3 linked regions of the Homo sapiens genome follow. The protein of the gene in region 1 interacts with the protein of each later gene in a pairwise test. Each region holds a gene or a part of one and is shown in the gene's direction. Other genes may lie near its edges.

Region 1 (5,213 bases):
CTGGAGCACACACTCCATTTTGGCTTGCAACAAGTATACTGGTGAGGGTCTGCGTGAAATCCATTCTGACATCTTCTCTCCCATGGATATACATGCCTTCAGCCAACAGAGGCAGCCAAATGGTAAGTGATCCTTGATTTTTAAATTGCAAGTTGGAACAGCTTTGTAGCACTCTAATGTCTGGCTTTAGTGAGGATCAGGAGGAGGGAGGGCATATCCAAAGATAGTTGGCGGGAATAAAAAAGAGTTAAAATCCTACTTGGGAGGCTGAGGCAAGAGAATCACTTGAACTCGGGAGGCCGAGGTTGCAGTGAGCTGAGATTGCGCCACTGCACTCCAGCCTGGGAGACAGAGAAAGACTGTGTCTCAAAAAAAAAAAAAAAAAAGTTAAAATCCCAGCACTTTGGGAGACTGAAGCAGGCAGATCATATGAGGTCAGGAGTTTGAGACCAGCCTGGCCAACCTGGTGAAACCCTGTCTCTACTAAAAAATACAAAAATTAATGGGGTGTGGTAGTGTGCACCTGTAGTCCCAGCCGCTTGGGAGGCTGAGGCAGGAGTGTCACTTGAACCCGGAAGGTGGAGATTGCAGTGAGCCGAGATTGTGCCACTGCACTCCAGCCTGGGCAACAGAGCGAGACTTTGCTCAAAAAAAAGGGAAAATGTAAAAGTATAATTCAGGTTAGGCAATAGCCTAGACCATTTTGTAGCCTGTCACTACAGACCACCTCAGCCTTTTTGAGTCAGCGCTTTTAGAGGTGGAGAAGAGAGAGATAATTTAAAAATTGAGATAGCTTATATGCTAGGCTTATACACAAATGAGTTTTTTTGTTCATATTATTTCTTTCAGTATGTAGTTGAATGTGTTGATGTGAGTGTGTTTAAAAAACAAACTCTTGGGCCAGGCGCGGTGGCTCATGCCTGTAATCCCACACTTTGGGAGGCCAAGGCAGGTGGATCACTTGAGGTCAGGAGTTTGAGACCAGCCTGGCCAACATGGTGAAACCCCGTCTCTACTAAAATAACAAAAATATTAGCCAGGCGTGGTGGCGTGTGCTTATAATCCCAGCTACTTGGGAGGCTGAGGCTGGAGAATCGCTTGAACCCGGGAGGCAGAGGTTGCAGTGAGCCAAGATCACGCCATTGCACTTTCAGCCTGGGCAACAAGAAAGAAATTATGTCTCAAAAAAAAAAAAAACAAAAAACACACACACACACAAAAACGCCTCTTCTTTTTAAATGAAAACTCTGTTAATCTAGAATATATTTGAATTTAAGTACCTCAGCTTGCTAAATAAAATACCTACTTAAACTTTTCTGTGTACCCCTCCCACCTTGTTTTCCTTAGTTTTGGTTCTGTGTTTGGTCAGCCTTTACAATGACTCGGGCTATGACTGCTGAGAACTTGTAAGAGAGGACTGGAATTAGGTTTAAAAGGAATACGAGAATGTTAAGGGTTTGGCACTTTTGTGTAAATAAATGTCTGGCATCTGTCTGAGTGTATTTCAGATTTTATTACATAGCCAAAAATGAAGAGATTTTGCAACATATGTTGCTTTATATTAGCTCTCCATTTAGGGGGAGATAATCAAATATTGAAAGTGTTATGTTGGAATCTGATGATCATGAGCCCATAAAAATGTTTTTAAGTGTATGTGTTACTCTTCTGTACAAAAGAAAATGTTCAGTCACTTGTATGAATTTTTTTATTCTTCATAGCCCTCAAAAGAGAATTTTCCCTGTTTTTTGTTTGTTTTTTGAGATAGAGTCTTGCTCTGTTGTGCGTTTATGTGATCACGGCTCCCTGCAGCCTCGAACTTCCAGGCTCAAGTGATCTTTCCACCTCAGCCTCCCTAGTAGCTGGGACTACAGGCATATGCCACCACACCTGGCTAATTTTAGTATTTTTTATAGAGGTAGGGTCTCACCATGTTGGTGACCCAGGCTGGTCTCAAACTCCTGGGCTCAAGTGATCCACGCACCTAGGCCTCCCAAAGTGCTGGGATTATAGTCACGAGCCACCGTGCCTGGCCTCTTGTTTTTCTTTTTAAATGGCATTGTTGGTCCTTTATGTTTTACTAATTTGAGAATTTGCAGTTATCTTTCATGTTGGTTACTTTTATCTTTCATGTTCCATTGGTCTCCATCTTATGTTGATTTTTTTCTATGAGTATTGTTTGGACATATCCCTTTCCATAATTTCCAAAGTTTGCTAATTAGTTTTCTCTGATTTTCATTTTCCCCTTTTTTCTGCTTATCCCTTCTATGTTAATCTTCCCAAGGCATGACTTTTCAACATAATTACTTTTCTTGGCTTTCAGTGTCCTTCACTTTAATCTATTCCCATTCTTTGTATTCATTCAGCTTTAGTTCCTATTAGTCAGTAGAAACCTTAACCTCCAGTTATACTGTTCACCTTAATATCTTACCCAGTTTATAGCCCCCAAAGTTTTATTCAGATAGCTTTACCATACTTGAAATGTCCTCTTATCTATCCTTCCTATCCTTGAAGGCTCCCGTGCTGTATACTCCACAAAGCTCTTCTTCAATTCTTTAAACCTCAGCGGTTTTTTTCCCATTTGACTCTGTACTTATTGTCTATAATGTGCAAAATAGCACTTAGTTTTATTGGTTTTGTTTGTTTGTTTGTTTGTTTTTAGTTTTGCTTTTTGTTAATTTTGTTTAACTGACTAAATTGTAACCTCTTTTAGGGCAGGGATCTCCTGCTTTACTTCTTGTGTATTCCTCTTTGGTTACAAAATACTAAGTAAATTCACACTGATTAATTCCTGTCTTTGCAGATGGTTTGATAGTCAAGCACCTGCATGACATTTGGTAATAATTTTGGCTTATCACAGTTGTTCATGTTATGGTTGTTAACCTTTGTGTACTTAGTAATCATTGATATTAATCAATGTGATTTATATTTGACAGCCACAAATCCATGTGGAATTGACAATGGGGGTTGTTCCCATTTGTGTTTGATGTCTCCAGTCAAGCCTTTTTATCAGTGTGCTTGCCCCACTGGGGTCAAACTCCTGGAGAATGGAAAAACCTGCAAAGATGGTAAGAAGATATTATCCAAAATGAAAAATTTTATAACTATTGGAATTCTTCATGATTTGTTTTCTCTATAATCAGCTCTCTAGGTTATACTGCTTTGGGAGACCAGTCACTTAATTTCACAGTCTTCACACATGGTTATAGAATAGGAGTGTTTTGTTCTGTGGCATCACTTGAATGCTATTTTATAAATTATTTTAGTGTTTTAAATAACATATTTTTGAAAAAAGTTACGTGTTGTATCTTTTCTGTCAAATCTCATAGTCATTGATATCACAGTTGATAACTATGGAAATGAGTAGTCGCATAAGGAATATATTTTTAACAGGTAGCATTTGTGAATAAAGAACCTCTGTGAAAGAAAGTATGTTTATTAAACTTTTAGCTACAAAGAATATCATGAGATATATTTTATAACAAATTATTTAAGGATGTTTTAAATTGCTTTTTAACAACAGAGAGATGCTTTCAGAGCTGGGAAAAAAAATCCATATTTAAAACAACTTCTTTTTATACTTAAGAAACACACTTTGCCTGTTCTCCTTACTCTTAATTCCCTATAGAGAGAGGGCACGTTGGAGAAAGTATACTGATTTAGGACATTTTAAGGGACTTCCAGTTTGGAAGAACACCAGTTCTTCTGTTTTTCTTCTTAATGAGAATGTTATTCTTCATTCTCACCCCTATGGATCACCATCTGGTTCTCTAGCAACCAGCAAGACCTGGTAAGAAAATTGTTGTATTTAGCTGTGGCTTCTTTATCTAACTCTGAAAAGCAGAAGCCTGTGTTTTGGAGTGTGTTAGAGTCCCTGGCAAGGGGGCCAGGGAGTCAGAGAGATGGAATTGAGTCTGTGTACAGGATGTTTGTTATGACTTGGCATTGATAAATTATCCTCATAGTAAAAGGTGAAGCTGGCTGACTCTTGGTCAAATGGTTTCCATGGCAGACAGCAATTTGGTTTCAATTTAAAACAAAAGGTTTTTGTAATGTTGCTTTTTTCTTTAAAAATGTAGCCTGACTTTAAAACAGAGGATTTATTTTAGCAATAATGGTCTATCTGCTCCCTCACAGCAGTGCAAGTGTACATATTTAACCAGTTTTGAATTTCATGTGTGCATTTGGCATGTAGTAGCCTTAAGTTAACTGTTCTGTTTTGATCACCTTGCTCAAATTAACAGCTCTATGACTTCTTTGTGAAGTTCTAGGCTGGCTCCTTTTGGTTGTTAGCCGGGGCAGTGAATTGTACAAAGTTATTCCTACTTGGTTCCTGCAGTGGCATTTGGGCTGTATTTTCTTCAAGTTGGAATTCATTTATAATTAGCTCTAGAGTGAAAGGGCTGATATTGAGAGGCTTCACTCCTCTTCTCAGTTTTTTGACTTGTAATTGCAGATTGATTCTTGAAGTTTATATGCCAGTATTTTGTTTTGGACTCATTTATTTAGCTGGGAATCTTTTCTTATTCTTTCAGTTGTCAATTTGCTTACTGTCTTTTATTAGCTTCCTATAGTTAGACGATTTTTTGCTGGTGGTTTACTTGAACAATTTAAAATGAAAAAAAGATTGAGCTCAGTATCTTCATTCTTGGTTATGTGGTTAAGTATTTGGGGCTTGGGCTTTAAACAGTTCATAAATAAACCTAATTTAAAATTCAGTGAAATAAAAATCTGAAAATCTTTATTTTTTAATACTGTTGTTAAGTATTAGTTAATATTTCTTGAGTACTTAAATGTTCAGTACTTTCCTGAGTTTTAGATTTATCTCCTTTAATCCTTACAACAACCTTACAAGGTATAGATGGGGAAACTAGGCTTAGCGAGATTAGATATTTTCCCAAAGTTTGTGTAGCTTCTTGAATCAAATTATATTGGATCCACAACTCTTAACCACTGTGTTATGTTTATCTGGTTCCTTCCCTCCATTGCAGCTGTTTGTTTCTCCATAGCTTGCTTTGTCCTCAATTCTGTGAGGTATTGCCCTGTATTTCTCTTTGTTAAGACAGTTTTACTGAGATGTAACTTACATAGCATATAAAATCCATCCATTTTTTAAATTGTACAATTCGGTGACTTTTTAGTAAATTTACAGAGTTACGCAGTTATCACCACAATCCAATTTTAGAACATTCCTATCAAGCACAAAGATTCTTGTC
Region 2 (4,312 bases), on another chromosome or scaffold:
GGCAGGCAGAGGTGGGTGGATTGCCTGAGGTGAGGAGTTCGAAAACAGCCTGGAAATCATGTTGAAACCCCATCTCTACCAAAAATACAAAAAATTAGCCAGGTGTAGTGGTGCACGTCTATCGTCCCAGGTACTTGGGAGGCTGAGGTGGGAGGATCGTTTGAGCCTAGGAGGTGGAGGTTGCAGTGAGCCGAGATCGCACCACTGCACTCCAGCCTGGGTGACAGAGTAAGACTCCGTCTCAGAAAACAAAAAAAAAGTAGTAATTGTGATCAGTATGATTTGTGGGCACACGCCCTGAGCCCTGCCCTCCACAAACTGTCCACACATACTTCATCTGCTCATCTCTTGTGAGGCAGACATGGCAGGATTGTCTGACTCCCTTGCAGGAATGTGCACACAGTAGGTGCTCAATAGTCCCAGCCTGCAGGCATTCAGTAAGGGAGTGCCACTGTTTGCTAGGCAGCCTGCCCAGGACTTCACAGGGCCATGGCGAGCATGCAGTGCTTTTCTCACTCCAACTCATGGAAATATTTGCCCCCTCCATGTAAATATTTCTCTCCCCTCCCCCTCCTCCTTCCCCCTCCCCTTCCTTACCCCATCCCCTCCCCTCCCCTCCTCTTTTGAGACAGAGTTTCACTCTGTTGTCCAGGCTGGAGTGCAGTGGCACGATCTCGGCTCACTGCAACCTCCGCCTCTCTGGTTCAAGTTATTACCCTGCCTTAGCCTCCCAAGTAGCTGGGATTACAGATGCCCACCACAACACCCGGCTAATTTTTGTATTTTAGTAGAGACAGGGTTTCACCATGTTGGCCAGCCTGGTCCCGAACTCCTGGCCTCAAGTGATCTGCCCACCTCAGCCTCCCAAAGTGTTGGGATTACAGGCGTGAGCCACCGCATCTGGCCCCTTGTAAATATTTCTGTTGGTTGGAGTTAGAAAAGCACTCCATGCATGTTATAAAATAATTCCAGCAGAAAGAGAACGACTCCCCCACCCTGCCCCACTGCACACATGATGCCCACACATGCTCTGTCTGACCCACCCCCCCCCGCTGGTTCCAGGGAGCTGGCTGCCACCTGCTTCCAGGAGTGTCTCCCTGTGCCTTTATATCTCCGTCCTCTCTGAGCCTCAGTGTTCCTCTCTGTAAAATGGGGCTGTGATTTCTTGTTCACACCTGGTTACAGAGTTAACTGAGACTTAGAGCTTGTGGGACAATTCTACACAGAACTCCTGGTTTGCTGGTGGGAGGGAGGGGTGTGGAGTGGTCCTCACACCACGTTCCCCACCAGGAGAGAGCATTCCAGTGCTGAAGACGGCACTGCCGGAGGGGCTGGGGCCCTACTGTGCAGAGACACACCGGCGGCACACACTCTTCTGCGGGACCCTCATCTTGCAGGCCCGGGCCTATGTGGGACCGCACGTCCTGGCAGTGGTGACCCGCACAGGTATGAGCCGGGAGGCTGGGCTTGAGAGAGATCCCGGGCTCAGCACCCTTGGGAGAGGTGGAGTGAGGCAGGGTGGGACCTGGAACCCTGGACCCCACGCCCACCTCTGCTGCTGCCCTGCTGTGGGACCTCGGGCCAGTTGCCCCCCATCTGGGGTCTGAGCATTCCCATCTTAGCAGAAGTTGGGCCAGACTAAGGCCAAGCATTGCAAGATCTGGAGGAGCCGCCGGGGTTACAGTGCTGGAGCGGGCAGGGATGTAGCGGGCAGGCAGGAGCCTTCCCTGTGTCTGGATTTTCAGTGGAACCACCCAGTGTTTAGATGCTATCCACTAGTTCCTTGTTTAAAGCCCTTAAAAAGCCTACAAGAGCCGGGCCAGACCTGTTAGGACTCCACACTGCTGATGGCTAATTTCACAAACATCATGTCTTGCAACTCCAGAGGCACGGGTCGGGAGGGCTAGGGGTGGGGAAGGCCTGCCCTCACCCTGGCTTCCCTGCCTTGGGGTCCCCGCCTCCTCCCCAGGGTTCTGCACGGCAAAAGGGGGCCTGGTGAGCTCCATCTTGCACCCCCGGCCCATCAACTTCAAGTTCTATAAACACAGCATGAAGTTTGTGGCTGCCCTCTCTGTCCTGGGTGAGTGGCCCCCTGCACCCTCCTCTGCCCATAGCCCCCCCCACCTGGGTCCCAAATCCCACTCAGTCCTTCGCTGTCCCCACAGCTCTCCTCGGCACCATCTACAGCATCTTCATCCTCTACCGAAACCGGGTAAGCCTTGGGGGTGGGGTGGGGGGTGCTGCCAGCAGGGCCCAGGGGCCAACCAGCCAGGTGCTCACATTCATGGTGCCCCCTGCCAGGTGCCTCTGAATGAGATTGTAATCCGGGCTCTCGACCTGGTGACCGTGGTGGTGCCACCTGCCCTGCCTGCTGCCATGACTGTGTGCACGCTCTACGCCCAGAGCCGACTGCGGAGACAGGGCATTTTCTGCATCCACCCACTGCGCATCAACCTGGGGGGCAAGCTGCAGCTGGTGTGTTTCGACAAGGTGGGGCCGCAGGTGGGGTTGGTGCAGGGGAGCGGGACAGCCACAGGCGCCCCAGTGAGGCCTCCACACCCGCGTTATTCTCTCAGCAGCACCCACAGGATGCCAGGTCCTGTCTAGGGATGGAAACCCCCAGAGGATCCACCCCATCCCACTCCTGCCCTCACTGGGCTCACGGTCTGGCAGATGAAATGTCTAGAATCATGTATTCATGTGTTCAAGAACTGGTGGGGGGCCGGGCGCGGTGGCTCACGTCTGTAATCCCAGCACTTTGGGAGGCTGAGGCAGATACATCACTTGAGGTCAGGAGTTCAAGACCAGCCTGACCAACATGGCAAAACCCCGTCTACTAAAAATACAAAAGTTAGCCAGGCATGATGGCACATGCTTGTAATCCCAGCTACTCGGGAGGCTGAGGCAGGAGAATCGCAGAGGTTGCAGTGAGCCAAGATCATGCCATTGTACTCCAGCCTGGGTGACAGAGCAAAACTCAAAAAAAAAAAAAAATTACTGGTGGGGACCTGGGGCCCTAGTGTGCATCCCGTGCTGCTCCCAACCCTTGGGGCCCAGCAGTGACCAACACAGGCATCCTTGTGGTCACTGGAGTGTGTGTGTCCCCCACCAAAGTAAGTGATCCAGGAGTGCACAAAGGAGCTGCTGGGGCTGAGGAGTGGGCAGTGGGTTTTAGGAAGGAAGCCAGTGGGATAGCTTGATGGGTTCTAGATGGGGACACTTCCTTAGAGAGAAGGCAGTCAAGGAAGCCCCCTGAGCAGGTCCCTCAGTGACCTCAGTGAGGGGCAGGTCGAGGAGAAGCAAGGGTAAAAGGTGGGAGTGTCATAGCACAGATGTACCGTGTGCCTGGGGCACAGGGAGTGGCGTGGCACAGATGTGCTGCGTACCTGAGCACAGGGAGTGGTGGAGCAGGACAGGGCCGGGTAGGCAGTGGCCTGGTTGACAGAGGCTAGGTGACATTCAGAGGCTGTCGGGGGCCACAGAGCGCTTTTAAACTGGGGAGGGGGCCCAGCGCAGTGGCTCATGCCTGGAATCCCGGCACTTCGGGAGGCCGAGGCGGGTGGATCATGAGGTCAGGAGTTCAAGACCAGCCTGGCCAATATGGTGAAACCCCGTCTCTACTGAAAATATAAAAAATTAGCCAGGCACGGTGACATATGCCTGTTGTCCCAGTTACTCGGGAGGCTGGGGCAGGAGAATCGCTTGAACCCGGGAGGCAGAGGTTGCAGTGAGCTGAGATCACACCACTGCACTCCAGCCTGGGCAACAGAGTGAGACTCCGTCTCAAAAAAAAATAAATAAACCGGGGAGGGGGATGACCAGATTCTTATAGTTCCCAGGCTAGCCAAGGAGCCAGACGCGTACTTGGGCAGTTAGAGTCTAGGATGGGGAACGCAGGCACTGACTCATGCGCTCATTCAACAGATATATTGAGGCTGGGCGTGGTGGCTCATGCCTGTAATCCCAGCACTCTGGGAGGCCAAGGCGGGTGGATTGCCTGAGGTCGGGAGTTCGAGACCAGCCTGACCAACATGGTGAAACCCCGTCTCTACTAAAAATACAAAAATTAGGTGGGCGAGGTAGCGCGTGCCTATAATCCTAGCTGCTCGGGAGGCTGAGGCAGGAGAATCACTTGAACCCGGGAGGTGGAGGTTGCAGTGAACTGAGATTGCGCCACTGCACTCCAGCGCGGGCGACAGAGCAAGACTCCATCTCAAAAAATAAAAATAAATAAAAATAAAAATAAATAAATAAATAAATAAATAAATGAGAGAGAGAGAGCGAGCCAACCGTGGGCCGGGTCCTTAACCAC
Region 3 (4,312 bases), on another chromosome or scaffold:
CCAATGTTGGCAAGGGGTGAAAACATCCAACTTTTCTGGACTTGTCCATTTATATCCTAGGGTAATGACCAGAAGAATTACAGTATAATTTTCTGACAATAATGTGATTCTGAATGAATTGTTCAAATACTTGAAGTTGGAAATTTGCCTACATTTGTATACCTTGTTACCCTCATTGCAATCTATAGCTCTTCCTGTTTACTTTTCATCTTTTTTCTCATGTTTCTATACAGCTTCCTCAAATTGTATATATCACATTAAAGAGGCGTGTGTGTGTGCGTGTGTATACATATGTTTGTGTGTGTATACACACATGCACATACCTGGTTTTACTTCTCATTTTTGTTTGGCTTAATTTCTTTTGTATAACAAGATATTAACAATCATACTATTTGGAAAAGATGAACAAAAGAAAACAAGTCTTACAAAATACAATTAATCTTTTTTCCTGGATTCATTTTAGCATCAAAAGTTGTAAGGAGTCATTTTTAAAAGTTGGAATATAATATTTTTCTGTTCAGTAGTGTGCTTATCATTTTTACGTATTATGTTATTATGATTATTTTTGTTAATGGCTGCCATTTATTAAGAATTTACTATGTCAGACATTGTTGAGGAGCTTTACATGCATAGTCCTTGTAATAACCCTTAGGTACTAATATCTACATTTTCAAAATGAGGAAACTGAGAATTAGGTAATTTAAATAATTTACCCACTCACACATCTATTAAGTGATAGAACCAGGATTCAAACCCAGAGCATGTGTCTACAAAATCCATCCCCTAACCGAGGCAAAATTTTCTGATTATTTATGTTTTGCAGCTTTGTCATGAAAATAATGAACTTGAAAGCAAGTTACTATAAATTTTATAAATCATAGATCAGTAATCCTTCAAAAATTCTAGTTAGGAGTTAAGACTGAAATTTTGCAACAGGAAAATCCATAGATATTATTATGGAAAGTATACAACTCAGAGTTGTATAGAGCAGACAGAAGAAAATTGACTTGAACTAATATTGTATTAAGGATAAAGCTTATTACAAAACAATACTACTGTAGGATAGGAAATTGTATTCTTTGGCTACATGGACTAGACTTTAAGAATACAATTTTTTTTGAACATAAAAATTGGTGATTCTTGGCTTCTGGTCATCCCACCTTAAAAACCCATAACTCACAAAATGAATAAATAGAATTAAATGAACTTAGGGGATAGGGGCATAAAGGAGGGAGAAAGCAAAACAAAAAACAAAATAAAACAAAACAAAAAATAAGCAGTGAAATTAAAGGCATTCTAGGTATAGGCATCTTTTTAAAAATTCAAATATCCGGTTCATCTGTGATTAGATAGACTATTGTTTGATTTTCAGAATGTTACTCAATTATATCTCTTCTTTTTTTTTATTGTGGGGAAATATATGTAACATAAAATTTACCATTTTAACCATTTTTAAATGTATAGTCCTGTGGCCTTAAGCGCAATCATGTTGTTGTACAGTCATCACCACCATCCATCTCCAGAACGTTTTTCATCTTCCCCAACTGAAACTCTACCCATTAAACATGAACTCCACATTCTTCCTCCTCCAGGCCCTGGCAACCACCATTCTACTTTGCGTTGCTATGAATTTGACTACTCTAGGTACCTCGTATCAGTGGAATCATATGATATTTGTCATTTTGTGACTAGCTTATTTCACTTAGCATAATGTCTTCAAGGTTCATCCATGTGGTAGCGTGTGTCAATTTACCTTCTTTTTAAGGCAGAATATATTCCATTGTATGTATATACCACATTCTGTTTATCCTTTCATCCATTGGTGGACGTTTGGGTGGGTGGCTTCTACCTTTTGGCTGTTGTGAATAATGCTGCGATGAACATAGGTGCACAAAATATCTGTTTGAGTACCCTTTTTCCTCTTAAAAGTGAACCAGTTTATAGAAGACAATGATCTAGCTTGTGTGTAGTCCCTTAACTCTAAAACCTTTCTTAAAAATATGACCAGATATTTTTTAAAATGAAATGCCTATCCTGAATTAAGTTTTTATTTATAAATAAAATTATAAACTTTTAATTTTAATAAAATTATTTAAACTTTTAGAATTAAAGTACTTGTCATAGTCAAGTTGTATGTTCAAATATGACCGGGTATTTTTTAAATGAAATGCCTATCCTGAATTAAGTTTTTTAAATATATATATAAACATAATCTTTTAAATGTAAAGTACTTGTCAAAGTCAAGTCATATGTTCTCCTAATTGAAATTTTGATTTTAGATTGAAATAAAATCTTATAAAGAGGCTGAGGATTTCTTCTCAATTGTGAAAATACATAGTATTTGTGTAGGTAATGAAAAGTTTATGAGAAGTACATGGAACTATTATAAATAGACTATTCTTTGTCTGACCTTGAAGGATCTGGGTAAAAGCAGGAAAGATTATAGAAAATACGAAGCAGGATGGAGAGCTCAGAATTATTGATAAAAGTCTATCCATAGAATTTGGTGATAAAGTCCACAAATTACCCTATTTATCATTGCTCAAGACTTCAAAGTAGAAATATTCTTTGTCCGAGCTGAAGGAGATAATTTCCAGTATTGTGTTTATGGCTTTTATATATTAGAAAGCAGAGGCAGATTCATTTCCCCAATTTTAGTACTTAGAAAACATACTTTTATAGAGAGGAAAATTACCACTAATATAGATGAATATAAACATCTCAGTCAAAAAAGATTCCTGGCCGGGCGCGGTGGCTCACGCCTGTAATCCCAGTAATCCCAGGCCAGCGGATCACGAGGTCAGGAGATCGAGACCATCCTGGCTAACACGGTGAAACTCCGTCTCTACTAAAAATACAAAAAATTAGCCGGGCGTGGTGGCGGGTGCCTGTAGTCCCAGCTACTCGGGAGGCTGAGGCAGGAGAATGGCATGAACCCGGGAGGCAGAGCTTGCAGTGAGCCAAGATTGCGCCACTGCACTCCAGCCTGGGTGACAGAGCGAGACTCCATCTCTTAAAAAAAAAAAAAAAAGAAAAAGAAAGTTTCCTTAAAATTTTGGCTAATAAATTTCCCAGCAAAATGCAGATCTATTTCTTTATGTAAATTCAAGTTGGCAGTAATTTTTCTAGAACACATTAAGTAATTAATAGATGTATTCTTATTCAGCAAAACAGGATTGTGGTCTGTCACCACACTTAAAAGACTATCTTTTTTTCTCCTTTGTTGTACTTAGACCTCTCGGCAGTGAAATAATTATGCAGGTGCTGGCAGTTCTAGAACTTGATTGTGAACTATGCCACTTTTGTTGAACTACTTAATTCTAAGAAATTAGCAATGAAAGTTTAGCCCTTTCTAGGGAACAGTATGACCACATAAAAGGTGATGTGCTGTGTTTTGTTTTGGAGTTTTATTTTGTTCTGTGTGGGTTAGTGGGGTTGTGTGTCAGGGGAGTTTGAGGGGGGATTGATTGCTTGCATGGTACAAATATTCACTTTCCATTAGATTTTTTGAGATACTGAAAATAGCTAACAAACCTACTTTATTACTTTCAAAGGTCCTAGCTAGATTGGGTACTTATGGGATTCATTGTAAACTGAATTTGCTTTTATATTTTGGTGTTGTAATCTGGCATTTTTCTAAAGCAGTATGAGTTTAAAGCCATTATAAGCAGCATAATATTTTCCCTGTCATAGTAGACCATCGTGTGATCATTTTTATTCTTGATTATTTGGGTAACCACTCTAGGCTCATTGTGAACACTTAGATTAAACAAGTTCCTCCTCCCTCTCATTTAATATTAGTCTTTATGGTAGCATCACCCAGATTGATTTTTCTTATGAAAAGAAAAGCTGTATGAATCACCTCTGACTGTACATTATTGTTATGGAAGCTCATTCTGGAGATGTTAAGGCCAAACAATTTTTGGCAAGTGGTTGTGGCAAGACTTCTGGCTAAAGTATGCATTTTGGGGAAATAAATTAGATGTATCACAAACAATGCAAAATTAATTAGTTTAATTTACAACCTACATTTTTTGCCTTTTTATAAAAGAGATGATGGCCTGAGTCCTAAAACTTATACCTAATTTGATAGTTTCAGTTTATTAATTACAAAATGAGAAACATTTGTCAGATTTTATAGGCACTTAATTTAAGGTACAGTTTGGAACCTAGGTTGTTGTACGCTCTTTACTCAAAATTATCCACATGAAGCATGGTGAACTATCTGCTCAAACTGGAATCCTCATTTTAGCCATGAGGTTAATGCACTCCTTCGTTATCCCAAGGTTGTGCTAATGTGCAGAGATGTAGC

What was found. The genes of interacting proteins can lie anywhere in the genome.
Region 2: the proteins of LRP6 (region 1) and ATP13A2 interact in a two-hybrid assay, tested with the Homo sapiens proteins (one study listed by BioGRID and IntAct).
Region 3: the proteins of LRP6 (region 1) and AMMECR1 interact in binary tests that used the Homo sapiens proteins (3 or more experiments, as listed by UniProt).

What each region holds. Positions count from the first base shown.
Region 1 is NC_000012.12:12,181,832-12,187,044, reverse strand, and holds part of LRP6 (low-density lipoprotein receptor-related protein 6 isoform b precursor), read left to right. Parts: coding exon 1-122; intron 123-2,933; coding exon 2,934-3,065; intron 3,066-5,213. UniProt on the Homo sapiens protein: Component of the Wnt-Fzd-LRP5-LRP6 complex that triggers beta-catenin signaling through inducing aggregation of receptor-ligand complexes into ribosome-sized signalosomes.
Region 2 is NC_000001.11:16,994,154-16,998,465, reverse strand, and holds part of ATP13A2 (polyamine-transporting ATPase 13A2), read left to right. Parts: intron 1-1,290; coding exon 1,291-1,446; intron 1,447-1,969; coding exon 1,970-2,080; intron 2,081-2,165; coding exon 2,166-2,212; intron 2,213-2,301; coding exon 2,302-2,490; intron 2,491-4,312. UniProt on the Homo sapiens protein: ATPase which acts as a lysosomal polyamine exporter with high affinity for spermine. Also stimulates cellular uptake of polyamines and protects against polyamine toxicity.
Region 3 is NC_000023.11:110,258,311-110,262,622, reverse strand, and holds part of AMMECR1 (nuclear protein AMMECR1), read left to right. Parts: intron 1-4,312.